Linked DNA regions of Homo sapiens. The protein of the gene in region 1 interacts with the protein of each later gene in a biochemical or structural test. Each region holds a gene or a part of one and is shown on either strand. Other genes may lie near its edges.

Region 1 (11,243 bases):
TTCAGAATTTAAAAAAAGAGATATACGGAGGCTAGTTACTAACATTGGTTTAGTGCCTACTATATTTCAAGCATTGTTTTATCTACTATGCATATTTCATATCATTTGATCCCAACATTCTTATTTTCAATGGTATTATCAAGTACATATGGCCAGAATTTGTAATGCTTTCTAAATTTTACAAAATAAAGTATTGACATAATTTACTGGCCATAATGTCCAAATTGACTCTCAGTTTATTCTTATAATTCCTGAAAAATTCATCAGAAAAGCATCATTAAAGTAAATATTTCACTTCTTTACCATTGCACTGTTTTCCTAAGAAAGTAAATATGCAAGTATGCAAATTAGATAGGATTCCCATTATCATTGCCAAATGTAATTTGATAGCAACAAAATGGCTCTGTGGAATGTCAGAAAATCAATCCTGGAATTCACGAAGAAAATTAAAAAGGCTAAAACGAACTGTCATAACCCCTCCAGCTTAGTTACACATCCCTCTGCCCATGGCCCCTCACTGTCCCTTTTAACTCATATGTACAAACAATGAATAAGCTATTCCTCATGTAAATTAGAAAACTAAAAGAGGTCTAGAGGCGAGAATTCACTGTAGTGCTTTACTGCCTAACATCAATTAAAAAAAAACCTGAAACTTGTTTGCTAAAATTTTTAAATAATATTTTTCAGATGGTCAGTATAAAATAGCCTTTGCCATCTTTCTACTGAATGTAGTATTGTCAATCAATAGATATAAAACATTAAGCCCATACTTCTCTGGTTGCATCTGCAATGGCAAACTTCTTGCATGGCTCCTGTATTTGGTTTTTCAGTTGATCAAGGTTTTCTTTAACAGTTTTAATAGTAAATGCATCAAGATTGGCACATAGCTGGAAAAGAGACATTTTTCAATATTTATGCAATTATTTTTCCCTTTCACTTTATTCAACGTAGAACTCTTTTTCATGTAAAAAATATGTAGCATTAAATTGTAGCATAAATATGTGGTATAAAATTTCATGAAAGTAATATGTAGCATTGCTTGCTAAATATAGCATTTTAACATTGTTTTATTATGGATCTCATTAACCCACAATCAGCAACATTTGTCCTAATATAGGAAAAAGGAGCTTCTAAATCAAGTTGGTGTAATAACAGAGAAAAAGGTGTATTGATATTCATTCCTTAAATTCCATTTTCCAAGTGGAAAACTGACATGGAAAGAGTATAACAATTTACCATCATTGACAGAGAATGATTTTGAGATAACCATGTTACATGAGGCATATCAAAGGTCAACTTGACATCCGTGGATCATACTACCACCTTCTTCTACACATAAAGCAGGCATCTACACATAAAGCTGGGAGCATCCTTAGTCATGTTCCTTGATTATTAGATTGGAATTAGTCCTTAATCCCAGTAATAAATTATATTTTGGAGCCTATAATTGCATCTCTGAATGTTGTGTCTACTCTACATAATTTGTATTGAATTCAACTTAAAGTAAGGGACTTAAAATTCAAATGCAATTGCCTTGGTACCAAAATACTTCTTGGGCTACTCTGATTTACTTAACACTCAAGATTAACAGTAGCACTGTATGTGGTGTTACCATTAGGGGGCAGCTGACAAGCTCATCTTTAAAGATCTTCATATCCCTATTTCCCTTTAATTTGAATTACCTAGATTCCTAGAATAACATATGAAGGACAGAAAATACGCAGTTTTGAAACTCATGGAGTAAGACTTTATTATGTGTGACAACTAGAAACTTTCATAGTTTATGCATATTTCTATATCAGGTAGATCATTAAATTTAACCATAAGAGTAGATGTTCAAAAGAAGGCATTCTATTTATCTCAACTTCCCATTAATTATATCACTCTCCATCATTTTTATGATATGATTTTGTGTTATTGATATTTATTAAGGCATATTAGTATTCTGTAGAAGACTGAGTATATTTATTGTACTAAAGCAAACAGATTTCACTTAACTGATGATCACAGCACTTGAACTCAATCTTATTTAATAAGACCAAGAAGTCCTGGCATTTGTTTTAGCTTTGCTTTCATTGGTTATACATAAAATTATGACTTACTTTTAAAATGTGTTCTTCAGCTTTGGCTTGCTTCGTGGCCCCTCCAACACCAGGTGAAGCTGTTAGTCCCAGTATCTGAGGAAGGGGAATCACTGGTTTGTTTTCTTTCTTGAGTCTATTGTTTTTCAACTTCTGCATCAAATAATGCCTCATGATGTTATTATACACTGCTTCTTTGTTGGTGTGATGACATTCATCAATGATAATGAGGGAAAAGTCTTAAAAGAAAATTCAAAGAGTTCATTTCTCCATATCAGCACACTACAGTGAGAAAATAGCTTTAGACCAGTAATTGAGCTGCCTTGGGGATGCCTTCTCTTGGGCACGACACAAGAGCAGTCCACTTTCAGTTTTTAGGAGGGAAATCTAACTATACTAGCACCTGTACACACAGACGTTCGTATATACTAATCATGAAACTCCCTGTTAGACATTCTCCTTCTTTAATAGATAAGATTCAGAAAGTTTACAGAGCTAAAAAGCGTTAGATGTGGAATTCACACCCTGGCTTATTACAAAACAAATCTCAGGATTTTACTTTTGTTCTTTAATAAAATATTTAATTTTAGGTTGGTGAATTTTATTTTTATTACATCAAGTGAAAAACACACTATTTAAAGAGGGAAAATTTTGCCTTGTTTTAACATTGCATTTAGTTATTATAAATTATTTTTATTTTTTTCCATTCTTTCTCCTACCTTCTCATCCTATACCCCATAAAAGACAAGATTTGTATTTTTATTCTATGGGAAAGGGAAGCAGATCTAACAACATTCAATAGCAAATAAAGGAACTTGTCAGAATAAATGGAAAGTCCAGCGAGTGCTTGCCTTAATAATGGTATTCTTATGCAGAATAAAGTGGTCTAATTAAAAACTTACTTTTTTTGTTTCCTCCAGGAAGTAGAAGGATTTTAATAAAACCATAAGCAATAAAAGACAATTTAAGCCACGAACATTTAAAAAATTAACAAATACAGCCTTTGTTATCATCAATATTACTATTAATTTTTTTAAAAAAATAAACACTTAAACTGACCTGACAATTGAACACCAGCATCTTCTCCATTTTCCAAGTTTAAGAGGGAGTTTTCAAGGATTTGAGCTGTACTGATAATAATATCACAGGACTTGACAACTTCTGGAAATGATATTTTCAGTTGGGTATCACCACTTAATCCAATAACACGATACCATTTCTTCAAAAATGGTTGGAACTCCTTGCGGAAGAGCTGTTCAACTAGCAGTACCTTAAAAAAATGTGAAGATTTTTTAAAAGAGAGAAAGTTAGTCGAAGCCAAAAGAGTGTTGATCAAAGGCCTGTTTGGCATCCAGCATGAAAAGAGGTGTTTACATTATCAGTGAATCAGGCATAACAACGTTCCCATCACTCCTTTCATTCATCTGTCAATAAGCACTGATTATACCCTTGTTAGGTGTGGGCATTTATGTCTGGGACACAAAGATATTTAACATATGGTTGACAACTCTGAGGAACTCTGTCTAGCTGATCATACAGACCAAGACTAAACAAAGCAAGACAAATTATTACAACACAATGTAATAATGCTCACCTAGAAACACACACAAAGTGACAGTTAAGAGAAGAAGCAACTGACGACTCAAAAAAGGGGAATTTGAAGGAATTTGAATCTAGTAAGCCATGAGTCAGTGAAAAGATAAACTGAAGCTAAGGTTGAATAAGAAATACATTTTTAAATTTGTAGAGCAGTGCCAGGTTATAAAGGGCTGCAAACATCAAGCAGAGTATTTTACATGTAGTATAACAGTTTACAGGATCCCTACAAGTTGTACTGTTGAAGTGATTTATTCCTGTTGTTTGTTTTGGATTAGACCAGAAGCAACAGGCCCACAGGACCGGAAGAATCAGGGAACCACAAGTGAGGAGTTAGGGCATTGACTAGGAGAACAGATGTGAAGTGAAGAAATGAGCTGCTGGAATAGCTGTGGTGGCTGAGAAAGAACAAACCCGAAAGTAGACCTGGCAAAAGAAGTGGAAACTTCGGGTCCTTCTCAGCTGATTCTGTATGTTATAACATCTGCTGAAGGTAGCTGGGTTGACACCTCAATGCTACACATTACTAGTCACTCAAAATACCTTCTGGATTAGGAGAAAAAATATAAGGCCATCTTGAAGGTCATATCCTAGGAAGATTTATGCAATGGAAGCCCAGCAGTGTACAATATGGGAAACAGAGAGTTGGCAGGAAGAGTTTCAAGGGCAAGCTTCAAAGAATGCCCATTATATTATTCACTCTCCATAATTCTACCAGAAATGCAATCAGTGGTTACCTTTCTCCTAGTCTGTAGGGTTTGTGTTATTCATCTTTTTACTTGAGGTAAGTCCCACTTAGGTGTTAAATAAGGAATGGCTGATCCCCCTGGCTAAAGGGAACAGCTACCTTATGAAGAACACTGGTTTACTTTATTATTTAGTGGAAATGATGGAGGCTTCCAAAAGTAGGTGTCTGGGGGGCTGGAAGAAGGGGTGGGGAAGAGTTAAAATGAAATCCATAAATTCTAAGGAAGCAAAGTGGACTTAAAATCAGTAATCAAGTTGGTGAGTGAAAGAACATTACCTTACCACAAGGTGGAAAGGGTAGAAAGAGTAAGAAGAGAAACTTTCATTTAGTTCTTTTTTTTTTTCAAAGTAAAGTCTCTCTAATCTACCTGTTACAAACACGCTTGAGAAGTTTAGAAAATGCAGACTCCTAAGTCCCACTCAAGAATTACTGAATCTAGGGACAATCTCTGGGGGGCAGAGGCTTGAAACCTTCACTTTAATGACATTTAAGCCTTTAAAATTTGAGAGTCACAGCTCTGCTCTTCTCTCTCTCTTCCACAAAGCCGTTCTTGAATCATTTTCTAGAAGTATTCTTTCCATTTCATTTATGCAAGACAGAAGGCTTCTGAGGAAAAGAATGGAAATTAAGTTTAGTGGAAAGAGACAGCATGATGCAGAGGGAAGAAAGCCCTGAAAACAGCTACTCCAGCCACTTACTTCTTTGTACCTTGGACAAGGTCTCAATCATCTTAATGCTCTCAATTTCCAGATTAATAAAATGAGGATAATGTTAACCTATTATAGGGTTGTGAAAATTAAATGAAATAGAGGATGCTGTATTGTCAGTACTAAAACTTCCACGATATTTCACCAATCCTTTTATTCTAGAAGGAGGGTGCAGTGGCAAAGGAAGACCAGTGGACTCAGAAGATAAAAGTTCGTGTCTCATTTCTGCTGTTTCTTGGCTGGATGATCCCTGAATTGCCAATTAAAGTCTTGAAACTTCAGTTTTCTGATGGGAAAAAATGAGAATAATAAAGACTACCTTATGGGGTTGCTGTGTAGATTTAATGAGATAATATATCTGAGAGTGCTTTATAAAGTGCAATAAAATATTAATTATCATATTATCAACATATATCTCTCATCTTTCTTCTAGACTGTATATTTCGTGAGGACAAGATCTACATTTGATTTGTCTTTAAATACACTCATGCTGAATGATTTAATTAAGAATCTCTGTATTATGGAGTGACATTGCACCACAAAATTCTGCCCATAAAAGGTGAGTCAAAAATCTTCAAAAGAAGCCGCACCTTCTGATGTACAGAACAAAAAGAAGTTGTCACAGGAGATAGCAGATGCTGGAAATCCTGATACTCGCTCTGGGTGGTGTTGACTTCCTACTGAAGGACACAGAGAAAGCCAGATGCAAGTCTGACATGGCTAATTGGGAGGTGTGTGGTCCTCTTGGAGCCTTTTCTTGAGATGTGACAGAGTGCCTGCCAAGACTAATCAAACCCAACTGCTACCCACTTCTGCTGAATCATATGGGGCTGCATTGCAGCATCTGAAGGAACCTGGGATTTATCTCTCATGATGTTGAAGCCCTAGATAGGAAATGGAAAGTCTGGGAACACAGGTGGTGTTTTCATTTCTCTCTGCATTCGAAGGCTATAACTTTGGAAAGGACGGAGGAAGGGAGATGAAAGTAAATGGTGTTAGAGAACAGGATTTCTTTTTTCTAGATCAAGGGTAACAATACCTTGTTGTTGGGCCAAACACAAGATTCAGGTTACTTAGACTTACTGGGCCAGAGGTGTTCTGACTCAATCAAAAAGAATTAAAACTGAAATTAATTTAAAATTCAAAAAGATGGTATAGTAAACAATTATGACATAGATGGAAGAATTAGTGGAGGGATTTCTAGTAATTCTAAGGAGAAAAACAATAGAAAAGCAATAAGGAATTAGAGTCAAGTCCCCAGGTGTCCACACAACAATGCAGTGAATGTGAATAATTAATGAGGATAAATTAATATTTAAACATAGCCATAAATGTGCATTCCGAAGAATCATGTAGATCCAATGCAATGAAAGATTCCTGGCTAGAATATAGCATTGAGAAGAGAAGGGAATATTATAGAAAGGAAGATGCATCAGACACATACAAAAATATGAGACTTGAAAAGATCAATAGTTAAAGAAATAAACCTAAGTATTTGAATTTAGGCTCAGAAACTGACTGCACAAAAATAAATTAAGAATGTTCTAGTTTAAGAGATTTTCAAATAAAAAGGAACTGAGGATTTTGATTCTATGACAAGGTCCAGATAAGTCTGTGGATGCCAGAGGCAAATGCGGTCATAAGCTGGGTGTCATATCTCATGTCTCCTACGCTCTGCACTGGTATGATCTTATCTGTAGTATTTTGCCCAACTCTGGACACCGCATTTAAGAGTGTCCCAGAAAAATGTCTGAAGGAGTATGAGCACTAGGAATGATGACAGGTTTAGAAACCATGTTATATGGAAAACAGTTAAAGGAACTGTGGACATTTATTCCAAGGAACAACAAAAAAAAGTAACTTAGGAGCCACATGATGCTGCCTTGTCTATGTGAAGGGCTGTCATTAGGCTGGAGAATTAGGACTTCGTGTGGTTGCAGAGGAAGGAACTCTAACCGGTGATTGTGGGATTCCAGAGAAACAGATTTGGATGAATACAAATAGGGCTTTCTAAGAGTGTCAGTGTCTTGTTAGTAGGGGGACCTCCTTGATATTAGGAAGTTACCCTGCAGAAGTGAGAGAACCACTCTGCAAAGGAAGAAAGCTGAATCTCGAAGCCCCTTTTCAACTCTATTAGCCTATGTCCCTGTGACCAGATAAGGGAAATAAAGGAAGTAGATGAATTAAAACTAACTCCTAGGTGTGGGGGCTGCATGCTTTGGAGGAGGTGGTATTACTCACAAAGAGACAGGTAAATGGGGAAGAGGAGCCTTTGGGAGGGTAGATGGTGAGGCTGAGTTTGAGAAAATGGCAGATGCTCAAATGGTTTCAAAATTATCAGTTTAAGTAGCTTTGAATCCAGTTAACTTGGTTCTTTTCTTTGGATTTGGCACTTAAAAGCCTCCCTGGTTATGTTACTTAGTTTCATGAGTTATGAAGGTGAAGAGAAAGGAGCAGGAGAAAGCTAGTATTTAAGAGTAAAAGCAGGAGTCATTACTAGGCCATATATAATCCAATTGAAATTTCAGAGCAGGGTAGTTATTATTTTGTTCATTTTGCAGATGAAGAAATTAAAGTTAGAGAAGTTACTAATTTGTCTAATTCAAAGTACCGGTAGGTAGAAATAGGATTCAAACCTATTTCATTTAAAAAAATAATATCCTGTACAAAGGGAATACATATGCAAGTCTATCGGCAAACAAATTTGAATGTGTCACCATTACCAGCAAAATAAATAAAAGTGTTTTAATAGTAAGTATACAAGTATAAAGGAGAGCTCTTTGGACTTAGCAGATGCACACAAAATGCATTTGGAACTACATGATAGGAATCATTCAAATCATGGATTCTAAGTACTGAAAAACAGGATGTAACTAAAACTTTTAGCATAATAGAAATAAAAAATAGAATATTTTACAGTCTACTGCTTTTTTTTATAAAGGAATAGATAAGAACAGAAAAAAGACTTTCTGATCAAGGAAAAGTATGCTCATTTTTATTCCATAAAATAGTAAATATTCATATCCCCAATTTGTATATTTATAAATTAATAAACTGTCATTTATCTGAATAAAGCTCAAATGACTAGATTTTGTTTTACGGTGAAGCAGACATATTTACTTATGAAGATGGCCTTCAAATACCCTAAGATATAAATTATTGAAGGAAAACTTCAGTTGCATTTAATGTAATATGTGTATATTTTATATATATATATGTATACTTCTTGAGCATTTTAAAATCTATTTAACTTGATGTAGATACCAAACCTTCACTTAATTTTATCTCCAAACCACATTATATGTATTCTGGAGAAAGAGGACTTGCCATCTTTGACTAAGGGTCAACAGCTAAAGAGAAAGTAAAAAACAATATTTGATCCTTGATTCCAGTGATATTTTGGGGTCATTCATATTCATTTGCAATGATAAATTAGCTAGTTAACCTTAAAGTATATCTGGGTAAATATAACCTGTGACCAGATAAGGGAAATAAAGGAAGCAGATGAATCAAAACTAACTCCCAGGTGTTGGGGCTACATAAGTTATAGCTATTTGGTATAATGTCCTAGTTTTATTGAAAAATTTCTATTTTCAGGTTCATCACTTAGATATTACATATACCTAAAAAAGATTAAAGATAAAATAAAGAGCTTATTTTGACATTACTCTTAATTAAACTAAACATGTGTGAGTCAATGACACAAATGCCATCATATAAAAGTTTCAGAATAATACAATGAAAATGATCAACTAGTGTTATGTGTTCTTTGAATACCTTATTGACAAGAACTATAACTTTTCCAGGCTCAGATGCTTTTTTCTTCTTGTCTAAGTGATCCTTGGCAATGTAAACAGCCACTCTGGTTTTTCCACTCCCTGTAGGGAGGCAGATGATGATATTCTTCCCTTCCAAGGCTGGCTGGGCAACTTCCATTTGGTAAGGCCTGAGCTGGAGTTCTGGCTCCGGGGATGCTCTTGCTGCCACATTCTCTTCATCTGAAGAAGGTTGAAAAGAAAAATAAGAGAAGGGACAACAAAATAACAGAGCTTAGGAAGCCTGAAACTGAACGTAGGCCTCTTGTGCTTTAAACTCCTTTTCACATGTGGTCCAAACCAATTCATTTTCTCTTTTCTGTACCAATTAATGTCTGCTCTCTGCATCTGCAGAATACAACACAGGCTCCCTCTCACAGAAGGAGTCTGGGGGTGTGGGGGTGCAGAGGGAGTCAACTAATTAAGAGGACTGGAAGGAGCAACATGGGGGAGTGTTTTCACAGAGTGGGTGAAGCCAAGGCGAATTTGTAGAAAGGGCTGTGGTGCGGGATTGGCAGGTCTAGTTGTTAAGGCATCAGACTTCCCATTTCTTTGTGGAGCCACTATGCCCTGCTTGTTTCACTTAGCCCTTCCACCTACAAAATCAAGAGGAGCTGAGAAAGTTGGAATCATTAGTCCTCCCAATTCCGTATTTCCCCTTTTTTTAATTGCAAAGAAGGTATTATGGCTGATACTATTTTCTTTCGTTTGTAGAAACTTTATCTGACAACCAAATACCAAAAAGCACACACACACACACACACACACACACACACACACACACAGACACCCTATCTATCTCAAGTTCCTTTTTCCATCTGAGGCAACTACGTTGTACAGAAGTGTTATTTAGAGAGTAGAGGAAAAAACTCTTCCTATGCTAGCCTTTAATTGGTAGGTTTTCCTTGAAAGGTAAAAATAATTTTGTTGGTTTAAACTAAATCATGACTACTTTTGCCATTTATTTGTGAATTGTTATCTTTATTACTTCCTTATGTTTATGGCTCCACATATTCCAACTTTTTCTAAAATCCAAAGTATAATATATTAAAAATATTTTCAATTAACATGGATTTTAAATTTAAAATACTGATAAAATAAGTTCTAACATAAACTTTATGTATATTAAAATAAAATTATTATAATATGTCTTGTTTTAGATAGAATATATTTTATTTAGAAGTGACCATATTGACCTATATTACCAGGGGAAAAAGATCAAAAAATGCATAGCTTATAATGTGAAATGAAGTAACATAAATATTATACCAATTTAAAAGCCCATTTTATGACTTATATAATAAGAAGAAAAAATGAAATAACAGTATTTATCCATATTTCATCACACATGAAATAACTTCTTTTTCTTATCAATGTTTGCAATAAAACTAAACTAACATAATCCCATTAACTTCAAAAAACTTGCTGATGGCTCCATTTCAGCCCCTGGATAATTCTATTTGAGTGAGTTTTAACTTGTTGTGATAGTACTATCTGAACAGGTAGGAAAATTCACACCAAATACCACTTAGGATCATCTACTAACCTGGCAGGAAATTTGCCTTTTGTATGGATGAGTAAAAACAGATGCAATACATTTAAGCTATCGTTGGATCATCTGCTGATTCATTCAATATGATTTTTATGAAAAACTCATTTAAAATCACCAGCATTTAAAATATACCTTTATAAGTTTCCATGCTTGTTTTGAACTCTACAATATTTACAATAGTTCATCTTGTATTATATTTATGTAAGGCTCTGATTTATTTAAGAACAATGTTAGCCCTCTGTAGCTTTCATAGACTATCAAAACCATGATATTTCACCTCTATTAGGATAGTTTGTCATCTAACTTTTCCAAAAGAGCCAGTATATTTGCAAAGGAAGATGCATTATAAAGTGTCTAAACAAAGACCCAGAAATTTACTACTGCTAAATTTTTGTTTGATCTAGGAAGTTTGTTAAAATATAGGAATAAATCCTCTTTGTTTAATTTCATCTGAGTTTCATTTTTGCGTAGATTTTAAGAATACTAATAAAATGCTCCTTCCTTCATAATAGTTGCAGAATAAACTATTAAAAGAGTACATTTTAATAATAATTTCCCCCATTTTTCATGCTTACTACTATATCCTTGAATAAGAAATATTACAAAGAGAAAGATATAGCAATTTCCTAAGTCTCTTTCCCGAGAATCCAGAACCAAATCAAATGAGTAAAATATTAATATTACTCATGCATTCTAATCATTTATTAAGCTGATACATTTAAGAAGAGCGAGAATGTTAAAAGG
Region 2 (11,243 bases), on another chromosome or scaffold:
CTCTGCGGCAAGCCAAACCCATGTTTAAAGTGGACCACATACTTACACTGAGCAAACCGAGAAGCTCTCCTGAGTGCAGGGTGGCTCTGGTCAGGCAATGGGCATGAGGAGGAAGACGGGGCTTCCAGGAGTTCTCCTAAGTAACAAAAAAATTAACAGAGGAAAGTCCCATCAGAAAAAGGCAAACTGAAGGTCTCCAAACATCATGGTCAAGGCACATGGCTGGCTTGTCTTCTTATCATCTACACATTTTTCAGTGTCAGGACTGGATCAGGCAGAGGCAGTGTGCCTGCAGCCCAGGTATGTGCACCTCCATGTTCTCACTGTGGACTTTTCACTCTTTCTTCACTAAGCTCTCAGCTCCTTGCTAGCAAAGATCTTGTTCATCTATATGTTCTAAGCACCAAGCCCCATGCCAGTCCCATAGATAGAAGGTGTTTTATGCACACTCATGAAATAAAATCAACTAATACAGTTCCAGGGGATTGCAGCACCCTAACACCTAGAATATCCAGGACCCCCAAGTCAATGTTTTAAACTGTTGTTACATAAACTGGGTAACATGAGTTGGGGTGAGATTCATCACCATTGCTGACACCTCCTAATTCCCTCTCGATGTGCTAAAGTTTAATTATTAACTTAAAGCAGTCATGTGTGCTAGAGTGCAATGACCACGTCAGGCAGATGATAAGTAAGGGAAGTCCTAGAGTGCAGACTTTGAAGGCAAAATCTTGTCCTACTTGTATCTTGAAGTGACAGCAGCTGCAGTGAATCTAAGACTCCACCTGAGAAGAGATGAAAGACCTTGTCTAGGGTGTGCCTGTGGTAACTTAGGTCATGAGAGCAAGAGAGCTGCCTGTAAAGAGGCCAGTCTCAAAATTCAACTCGGAACTGAAGCAATCCCTGTGTCCAGAGACAGAAAAATGGATAAAGAAATGTGATATATACATACAATGGAATATTATTTAGCCTTAAAAAGTAACGAATACTGCCTGGGCGCAGTGGTTCACACCTGTAATCCCAGCACTTTGGGAGGCCAAGACAGGCAGATCACAAGGTCAGGAGTTCAAGACCAGCCTGGCCAATATGGTGAAACCCCATCTCTACTAAAAATACAAAAATTAGCTGCGTGTGGTGACACATGGCTGTAATCCCAGCTACTTGGGAAGCTGAGGCAGGAGAATCACTTGAACCTGGGAGGCGGAGTTTGCAGTCAGCCGAGATCGCACCACTGACTCCAGCCTGGGAAACAGAGTGAGACTCCATCTCAAAAAAAAAAAAAAAAAAAAGTAATGAATTCTGCCTGGGCGTGGTGGCTCACGCCTGTAATCCCAATACTTTGGGAGGCTGAGGCGGGCGGATCACCTGAGGTCAGGAGTTCGAGACCTGCCTGGCCAACATGGCGAAACCCCATCTCTACTAAAAAATACACACACACACACACACACACAAAACTAGTCAGGGGTGGTAGCACATGCCTGTAATCCCAGCTACTACTAGGGAGGCAGAGGTGGGAGAATTGCTTGAACCCGGGAGGCAGAGGTTGCGGTGAGCCAAGATCGCACCACTGCACTCCAGCCTGGGTGACAGAGCAAGACTCCGTCTCAAAAAAAAAAAAAGTAACAAATTCTGATATATGCTACAACATAGGTGAGCTTGGAGGACATTATGCTAAGTGAAATAAACCTCTCACACACTAATACTGTATGATTCCACTCACATGAGGTATCTAGAATAGTCAAATTCATAGAACAGAAAGTGGAATAGTGGTTGCCAGGTAGGAGGGGGTTGAAGGAATGTGGAATTGTTGCTTAATGGGTATAGAGTTTCAATTCTGCAACATGAAACCAGGCATGGTGGCCCATGCTTATAGTCCCAGCTAGTTAGGAGGCTGAGGCAGCAGGCTCACTTGAGGCCAGGAGGAGTTCCAGACCAGCCTGGGCAACATAATGAGACCCTGTCTCTACAAAACAATTCTTTTTTTTTTTTTGAGACTGAGTCTCGCTCTGTCGCCCAGGCTGGAGTGCGATGGCGCAATCTCAGCTCACTGCAAGCTCCACCTCCCGGGTTCACGCCATTCTCCTGCCTCAGCCTCCTGAGTAGCTGGGACTACAGGCGCCCACCACCACACCCAGCTAATTTTTTTGTATTTTTAGTAGAGACGGGGTTTCACCGTGTTAGCCAGGATGATCTCGATCTCCTGACCTAGTGATCCACCCGCCTCGGCCTCCCAAAGTGCTATGATTACAGGCGTAAGCCACTGTCCCGGCCAAAACAATTCTTTAAATAGCTGAGCATGGTGGTGTGGGCCTATAGTCCTGGCTACTGGGGAGGCTGAAGCAGGAGGATTGAGGTTACAGTGAGCCATAGTTGTGCCACAGTACTCTAGCCTGGGCAACAAAGTAAGACCTGATCCTAAAAAATTAAAATTAAAGTTACAGTCCAGGCGTGGTGGCTCACACCTGTAATCCCAGCACTTTGGGAGGCCGAGACGGGTGGATCACCTGAGGCCAGGAGTTTGAGACCAGCCTGGCCAACATGGTGAAACCCTCGTCTCTACTAAAAATATAAAAAAAATTAGCCAGGTGTGGTGGTGGATGCTTGTAATGCCAGCTACTTGGGAGGCTGAGGCAGGAGAATCGCTTGAACCCAGGAGCCAGAGGTCGCAGTGAGCCGAGATCATGCCATTGCACTCCAGCCTGGGCAACAAGAGTGAAACTCTGTCTCAAAAAAAAAAATAAAATAAAATAAAGTTACAAAAAAGAAAATGATCTGGAGATTGGTTATATGATAATGTAAACATACTTAACAGTACTGAGCTCTGAGCTGCTACTTTTTTTGTTGTTGTTGCCGAGGCTGGAGTGCAGTGGCCTGATTTCGGCTCACTGCAACTTCTGCTTCCCAGGCTCAAGTGATCCTCCCACCTCAGCCTCCCAAGTAGCTGGGACTGGGACTACAGGTGTGTGCCACCATAGCAGGCTAGTTTTTGTATTTTTGGTAGAGAAGTGGGTCTCACTATGTTACCCAGGCTGCTCTTGAACTCCTGGACTCAACTGATCTGCCCACCTCAACCTCCCAAAGTGCTGGGATTACAGGCATGAGCCACTGCACCTGCCTGAGCTGCCTACTTAAAAATAGTTAAGATAGTAAATTTTATGTTGTATGTATTTTCACTACAATTTAGAAAAACACAAAATTCAGATGAATATCACTGTTCTCCTATTTTGCTGATACGATTATTACTTATTGTTAATAGGTTTTTAAAAAATGTTTGGCTGGGCACCGTGGCTCACGCCTGTAATCCAACAACTTTGGGAGGTTGAGGCAGGAGGATCGCTTGAGCCCAAGAGTGGGAGACCAGCCTGGGCAACATGGCAAAACCTCATCTCTACAAAAAGTACAAAAAATTAGCTGAGTGTGGTGGCACATGCCTGTAGTCCCAGCTACTTGGGAGTCTTAGGAAGGAAGATCACCTGAGCCTGAGAGATCGAGGCTGCAGTGATTGTGCCACTGCACTCCAGCCTGGGCAACAGAGAACCTGTGTCAAAATAAAAAAATTAATTAATTAATTAATTCAGCAGAATGCAGATTATAAACAAAAGAAAAAGAAAGGAAAAAAATTTTTTAAAAAGCATTTGCAAAACCTACTGAAGTTATTTACTTTTTTTTTTTAAATTAACACTCCCTAATACTTTTTTTATCTCTATTGATGAGAGAAATAATCTACACTTAACCATGGAAATTTTTTCCAAAGAATCATGGTTCTCCAGTTAAGAGCAACATTTTAAGCAGAGCAATATCATTAAACATGAAAATGCTATGAGATATGTCTCTAAAGTGGCACTACACAAATCTTACTTAAAATTCACTAGGGGCTCGGTATGGTGGCTCATGCCTGTAATCCCAGCACTTTGGGAGCCAAAGCACAAGGATTGCTGGAAGCTAGGAGATCAACACCAGCCTGGGCAATAAAGTGACATCCCTGTCTCTATTTAAAAAATAAATAAGGCCAAGTGCTGTGGCTCATGCCTGTAATCCCAGCACTTTGGGATGCCAAGGCAGGCAAAGGCAGGCAGATCACCTGAGGTCAGGAGTTCAAGACCAGCCCGGCCAACATGGCGAAACCCCATCTCTACTAAAAATACAAAAAGTATCCAGATGTGGTGTCGGGAGCCTATAATCCCAGCTACTCAGGAGGCTGAGGCAGGAGAATTGCTTGAACCCGGGAGGCGGAGGTTGTGGTGAGCCGAGATCGCGCCACTGCACTCCAGCCTGGGCAACAGAGTGAGACTCTGTCTCAAAATTAATAATAATAATAATAATAATAATAATAATAAACAAATAAAACAAAATGCACTAGGATACATGCTGAGATATACTTGAAGTGAGTCAAAGATTTAAATGTAAAACATGAAACCAAAGATTTAAATGTAAACTGTGTAAGTACAAACACACACATATACCTGAGAAAATTCCTTTCTAAACTTCAGGGGGTTGAGTTTTCTAACTAAAACTTAAAATCTACAATGCATAAAAGAAAAAATGAACAAAATTTACTACATGAAAATAGAAGCAAGACCTCTTCTCCACAAAAAAAATAAACAAAAAATTAACTGAGTGTGGTAGCGCCACCTTGCAGTCCCACCTACTCAAGCAGCTAAGGTGAACTAATTGCTGGAGCCCAGGAGTTCCAGGCCAGCCTAGGAAACATAGCAAAACTCTGTCTCTACCCAAAAATACAAGAATTAGCCAGGTGCGGTGACACGCACCTGCAGTCCCAGCTACTCAGGAGGCTAAGGAGGGAGGATCACTTGAGCCTGGGAGGTCAAGGCTGGGGTGAGCCATGATCGCACCACTGCACTCCACCCTGGGAAACAAAGTAAGACCTTGTCTCAAAAAATAAAAAAGAAACATTTAGAGACCAGGAATTGCCACAGCACTCTAGTCAACCAGTCTAGGCAACAGAACAAGACTCTGTCTATTGTCTCTAAAAAAAAAAAAAAAAATTGAGGCCAGACATGGTGGTTCACACCTGTAATCCCAGCAATTTGGCAGGCAGAGACAGAAGGATTGCTTGAGCCTAAGAGTTTGAGACCAGCCTGGGCAAAACAGTGAGATTTCATCTCTATAAAAAATTATGTAAAGGCCGAGCGCAGTGGCTTACTCCTGTGTAATCCCAGCAGATTGGGAAGCCAAGGCAGGTGGATCACCTGAGGTCAAGAGTTTGAGACCAGCCTGACCAACATGGGGAAACCCTGTCTCTGCTAAAAATACAAAAATTAGCCAGGTGTGGTGGCACAGGCTTGTAATCCCAGCTACTTGGGAGGCTGAGGCAGGAGAATCACTTGAACCCAGGAGACAGATATTACAGTGAGCCAGATCACACCTTTGTACTCCAGCCTGGGCAACAAGAACGAAACTGCTTCTCAAAAAAAAAAAAAAATTACATAAATTTAAAAATGTCTATATGGCATTATAAAACCCATAAAAGATAAATAAAAAGACAAATGACATATTAAGGAACAAAATTTGCAATTCATATAACAGACAAAAGTTTAATCTCTTTAATTTACAAAGAGCTCCTAAATGTCAATTTTTAAAAGACCAATAACACAAGATATGAAAGACAATTCATGGAGAAACACAAATTAAAAGTGTAGTATAGGCCGGGCACGGTGGCTCACCCCTGTAATCCCAGCACTTTGGGAGACCGAGGCAAGCAGATCACCTGAGGTCAGGAGTCTGAGACCAGCCTGACCAACATGGTGAAACCCCATCTCTAAAAGTACAAAAATTAGTGAGGCCTGGTGGCAGGTGCCTGTAATCCCAACTACTCAGGAGGCTGAGGCAGGAGAATCACTTGAACCTGGGAGACGGAGATTGCAGTGTGCCGAGATCGGGCCACTGCACTCCAACCTGGACAACAAGAGCGAGACTCAGTCTCAAAAAAAAAAAAAAAGAAAGAGAAAGAGAAAAAAAACGCGCAGTATACTCTCACGTCAATGTATTTTCTTGAGTCAGAGTTTCATTCTTGTTGCCCAGGCTGGAGGACAATGGCACGGTCTTGGCTCACTACAACCTCTGCCTCCCGGGTTCAAGCAATTCACCTGCCTCAACCTCCCACGTAACTGGGATTACGGGCACCCACCACCAAGACTGGCTAATTTCACATCAATATTTTGACCCATGAGATTGGTTTAAAAAAAAAGACAAATGTTTGACAACATACTCAGTTGGCAGGTTGGGGACACACACTTCTTCTGTGGGAGTGAAGACTGGTATAACCCAACTGGAGGGTGATTTGGCAATGTATATCAAAATGACAAATGAATTTACCCTATGACCCAGCAACCTTCACTGGCAATTTGAGCTACAAATATATCTACACCCATATGAAACAATGTACATACACAGTTATTGATTTTAGCATTATTTGTCATTGTAAACAATTGGAAACAATCACGTATTCATCTGCAGAGGATGGAGTAAATAAATGTTGGCATACCCAGATATTGGAATACTGAGCAACTGTAAGAGAAAATGCCCTAGGTACTAACAAAAGCAAGGAAAAATGTCCTAACTACTGTACTATAAAATAAAGATGTATAAAGTAAAAGACAAAAGCAAAATGCAGGACAATGTATATAATGTGCTATCTTTTGTGTATTAAAAAAAGATTGGGAGAAATAAAAATATAAATTCATATTCGCTGACATTTGCATAAATAAATTCTGAACAGACACTCAAAAAAACGGTAATAAAAGTGGTGCACTGAGAAGAGAGAATGGGGCAATTGGCAAGGATGGAAGAGAGACTGGGCAGTATGCCCTTTTTATACTGTTTTTGTTTGTTTGTTTGTTTGTTTTGAGATGGTGTTTCGCTCATCACCCACACTGGAGTGCAGTGGCTCACTGCAACCTCTGCCTCCCGGGTTCAAGCAATTTTCCTGCCTAAGCCTCTGGAGTAGCTGGCACTACTGGAGTGTGCCACCACGCCCGGCTAATTTTTTGTATTTTTAGTAGAGACGGGGTTTCACCATGTTGGCCAGGCTGCTCTCGAACTCCTGACCTCAGGTGATCCACCCTCCTTGGCCTCACAAAGTGCTGGGATTACAGGCATGAGCCACCGCGCCCAGCCCTGTTTTGATTTTTGAATATGAAATTTTAAATTTAACCCCCCAAAATTTAAAAATTGATCTTAAATTTGTATAAATAAAATCACTAAGGAACCCAACCTAAGTTTAGAAGCACACAGAATACAAAGGTGCTTCTTTCTCAGATAATTTTTGGAACAATAAACTGCTCTCTAATTGTTTTCCTAAAGAAACTTTTTCCAAGGAATCATGCTTCTCCACTTACATAAGAAATGATTCTTTTTTTTTTTTTTTTTTTTTGAGACAGAGTTTCACTCTTGTTGCCCAGGCTGGAGTGCAATGGTGCAACCTCTGCTTCCCAGGTTCAAGTGATTCTTGTGCCTCTGCCTCCTGAGTAGCTGGGATTATAGGCACCCACCACCATGCCCAGTTAATTTTTGTGTTTTTAATAGAGACAGGGTTTCGCCAGGTTGACCAGGCTGGTCTTGAACTCTTGACCTCAGGTGATCCACACGCCTCGGCCTCCCAAAGTGCTGGGATTACAGGCATAAGCCACTGCACTGGCCAGAAATGATTTTTTAAGTAGCATAAGATTGTTTAAATATGAAAATATAAAGGATATAAAAGCTATCAGAAGAGGAAAAGCTACAGAAGAAATGCCTCTAAAGCATATGAAGATAGCAGTGGCCAGAGCAGGAGGAAGAACCCTGGGAGACCAGACAGAGCTAACGTCTAATGTCTGACAGGAAGGTGTTAGTTATTTTTCAATAACTCTGGAAGAACAACAGAGAAACTACAGGATCAGGACAGAAAGGTTCTTTTCTATATGGTACTGTTTAATATTAACATTAACACACTCCCCAGAGATTATATTTTAATAGACTGTATCAAGAACTAGTTACAAAGTGGCATGCTGGTTTTGTTTGTAGACAAGATCTCCCTCTGTTGCCCAGGATGCAATGCAGTGGCATGATCACTCAGCCTTGAACCCGTGGCTCAAGTGATCCTCTAGCCTCAGCCTACAGAGTAGCTGGGACTACAGGTGTGCACCACCACATCTGGTTACTTTTTATTTTTTGTAGAGACAGGATCTCTCTCTGTAGTCCAGGCTGGTCTTGAACTCCTGGCCTCAAGAGATCCTCTCACCTCAGCCTCCCAAAGCACTGGGATTACAGGCGTGAGCCACTGCACTTGGCCTATATGCTTTGTTAAGAAAGACATTTACAGCCAGGTGCAGTGGCTCACGCCTGTAATCCCAACACTTTGGGAGGCTGAGGTGAGCCTTGCAGTCAGGAGTTTGAGACCAGTCTGTCCAACATGGTGAAACTCTGTCTCTACTTAAAAAAAAAAAAAAAAAAAAGAAAGAAAGAAAAGAAAAAAAAAACCAACGCAAAAATTAGCCAGGCGTGGTGGCGCACGCCTGTAATTCTGGCCAAGATCGCACCACTGCACTCCAGCCTGGGTGACGGAGTGAGACTCTGTCTCAAAATAAAACAAAAACAAAACAAAATTATTAAAAAAAAAAAAAAGAAGAAGACATTTACTAGTTAAAAATTTAAGGCCAGGCACGGTGGCTCACGCCTGTAATCCCAACACTTTGGGAGGCCAAGGCGGGCAGATCACAAGGTCAGGAGATTGAGACCATCCTCGTTAACATGGTGAAACCCCGTCTCTATCAAAAACACAAAAAATTAGCCAGCATGGTGGCGGGCACCTGTAGTCCCAGCTACTGGGGAGGCTGAGGCAGGAGAATGGCATGAACCCAGGAGGCAGAGCTTGCAGTGAGCCCAGATGGTGCCACTGCACTCCAGCCTGGGCGACAGAGTGAGACTCCATCACAAAAAAAAAAAAAAAAAAAAAAAAAAAAATTAAAAGTGGCCTATTTCAGAATCTCTGCAGTAAGATAACACACTTGATCAGTAAGGACCTGTGTGCATGGATCTTCAAAAATGAGTTTCTATCTATTAAGGACTTGTGATACATCACACCTTCAGTCATTGCCAAAAACATATTCAGCCACAAAATCACTTCAGCCCACCCCTACCTGATTCACGACACCACAGTGGTAATACAGCTGGACTCTGGGATCCTATCCCCAGAGAACAAAGCCATAGAGCACTCTGCTACTCCCCCCAACTTCCATATTTAATCCTCCTCCAATAAATAAGATCAGCTCACCCTGCATTTGTGCTTCAGGAGCCTCTTTCCAGGTGACGCTTTCTTGTAATTTTTCCTGAATTTCTTCTAGGTCATGGAGAATATCTCTGATTTTCCCTGCAGCTGTGTCGGAAGTCACCAGCTTTGGAGAAGCCATGGAAAGATCCACCCCAGAAGAAAAAGCCTATTGATAAACCATTTAAAACTGAATAAATGGAAGTCCCCTATGCAGTCTATCAACTATTATATTCAAGTTTTTCTATTCATCTATAATTTTCTATTTAATTCCCAGCAAGTTTTTAAAAACAAAATTAGGCCCTCAAAAAATATGCCTTGAAAAAAATCTGGAATAATTTGCTGTACATAGTACAGCAAAAATATCAAAGAGTGGTTATTTCTGGGTGATGGAGTTATGGAGCACTTTAATTTGCTTTATTTAATGCTATGTGCTTTCTAATATTTTGCACAATAAACATGGATTTCTTAGGTAATACCAAAAAAGTTTAACATTTCTAGGCGCATCTTATAGGGGCTTTATAAAATAAATACTACAGATAGTTACTGAGATAAACCATGGAGGTCAGAATAACCTTTTCGGCTAGGTGTGGTGGCTCACACCTGTAATCCCAGCACTTTGGAAGGCTGAGGAGGGTAGAACACCTGAAGTCAGGAATCCGAGACCAGCCTGGCCAACATGGTGAAACCCTGTCTGTACTAAAAATACAAAAATTAGCCAGGCATGATGGCAAGTGCCTGTAATCCCAACTACATGGGAGGCTGAGGCAGGACAATCACTTGAACCCGGGAGGTAGAGGTTGTACTGAGCTGAGAAGATCATGCCACTGCACTACAACCTGGGCGACAGAGCAAGACTCCATTTCACAAAAAAAAAAAAAGGAACCTTTTCCCACCTCTATCATTATATCATTTCACTTCGCAAGAGCTCCCTCTCAAATTGCCTGCATCCAGGTCCTGCTTTCTAGGGCCTTCAACACATGCTCCCTGATTTTCTTTAGCCTCAGGTCCTGTTCTTCCCCAATACAGCCCTTTATCTGCTCACCAACTTCAACCCCTTTCCTTCCCACCTTTGCATAATCCACTCCCCATTCTTTCCACCAATCAAAATACGGTAGTATTACACTTATTGAGTGTTTTCTACATGCTAGATATTGCCTTTCTCTCATTTGCATAACAACCTCACAAAGTAGGTTTATCAACCTGTAAAAAATCTCCGTTTTACAAAAGAAGATGAAATTCATGAAGGTTAACTAAATTGCCACAGTTAATTATAACATCCCACATTTTAACATTGCTCAAGCACTTTCTTATACCTCTTTTAATCCTCACAATAAACCAATGATGTGGCAGGCCCTGTATCATTATTTCTATATTACAGATAGGAACCTGAGACGCAGATAGATGAAATGACTTGCCCAAGGTCATAATACTAGTGAGTGACAATGTCAATTCTGAAAGTCAGACTCTCAGCGTTTCTATCCCAACACATCGCATCCCTAAAGATGGATTTATCCATACATTCAGTGGGTATTTGTTGAACCCCTACTGTAAGTGGGTACTTGGGTACTGTGCTAGCGCCTGGGGACACAATGGTGGACAAAAGAACAAAAGCATCAGCCAGGCAATGTGGCGCACGCCTGTAATCCCAGCACTTTGGGAGGCCGAGGCAGGTGGATCACAAGGTCAGGAGTTTGAGGCCAGACTGGCCAGTATGGTGAAACCCCGTCTCTACTAAAAATACAAAAATTAGCCAGGAGTGGTGGCGGACACCTGTAGTCCCAGCTACTCGGCAGGCTGAGGCAGGAGAATCACTTGAACCTAGGAGGCGGAGGTTGCAATGAGCTGAGATCACGCCACTGCACTCCAGCAAGACTCTGTCTCAAAAAAAAAAAAAGCATCAAAAGTCCCTATCCTCCTGAAGTTGAGAGTCCAGTGAAGGAAAAGGGAGGGGGGCAGACATTAATATAGAGTATGG

Evidence for each region.
Region 2: of the proteins of IFIH1 (region 1) and RNF135, one has a biochemical effect on the other in vitro, tested with the Homo sapiens proteins (one study listed by BioGRID).

What each region holds. Positions count from the first base shown.
Region 1 is NC_000002.12:162,279,226-162,290,468, forward strand, and holds part of IFIH1 (interferon-induced helicase C domain-containing protein 1), read right to left. Parts: intron 9,131-11,243; coding exon 8,910-9,130; intron 3,352-8,909; coding exon 3,141-3,351; intron 2,321-3,140; coding exon 2,103-2,320; intron 888-2,102; coding exon 771-887; intron 1-770.
Region 2 is NC_000017.11:30,986,135-30,997,377, reverse strand, and holds part of RNF135 (E3 ubiquitin-protein ligase RNF135), read right to left. Parts: intron 9,435-11,243; coding exon 9,272-9,434; intron 3,539-9,271; coding exon of another isoform or gene 3,474-3,538; intron 137-3,473; coding exon 47-136; intron 1-46.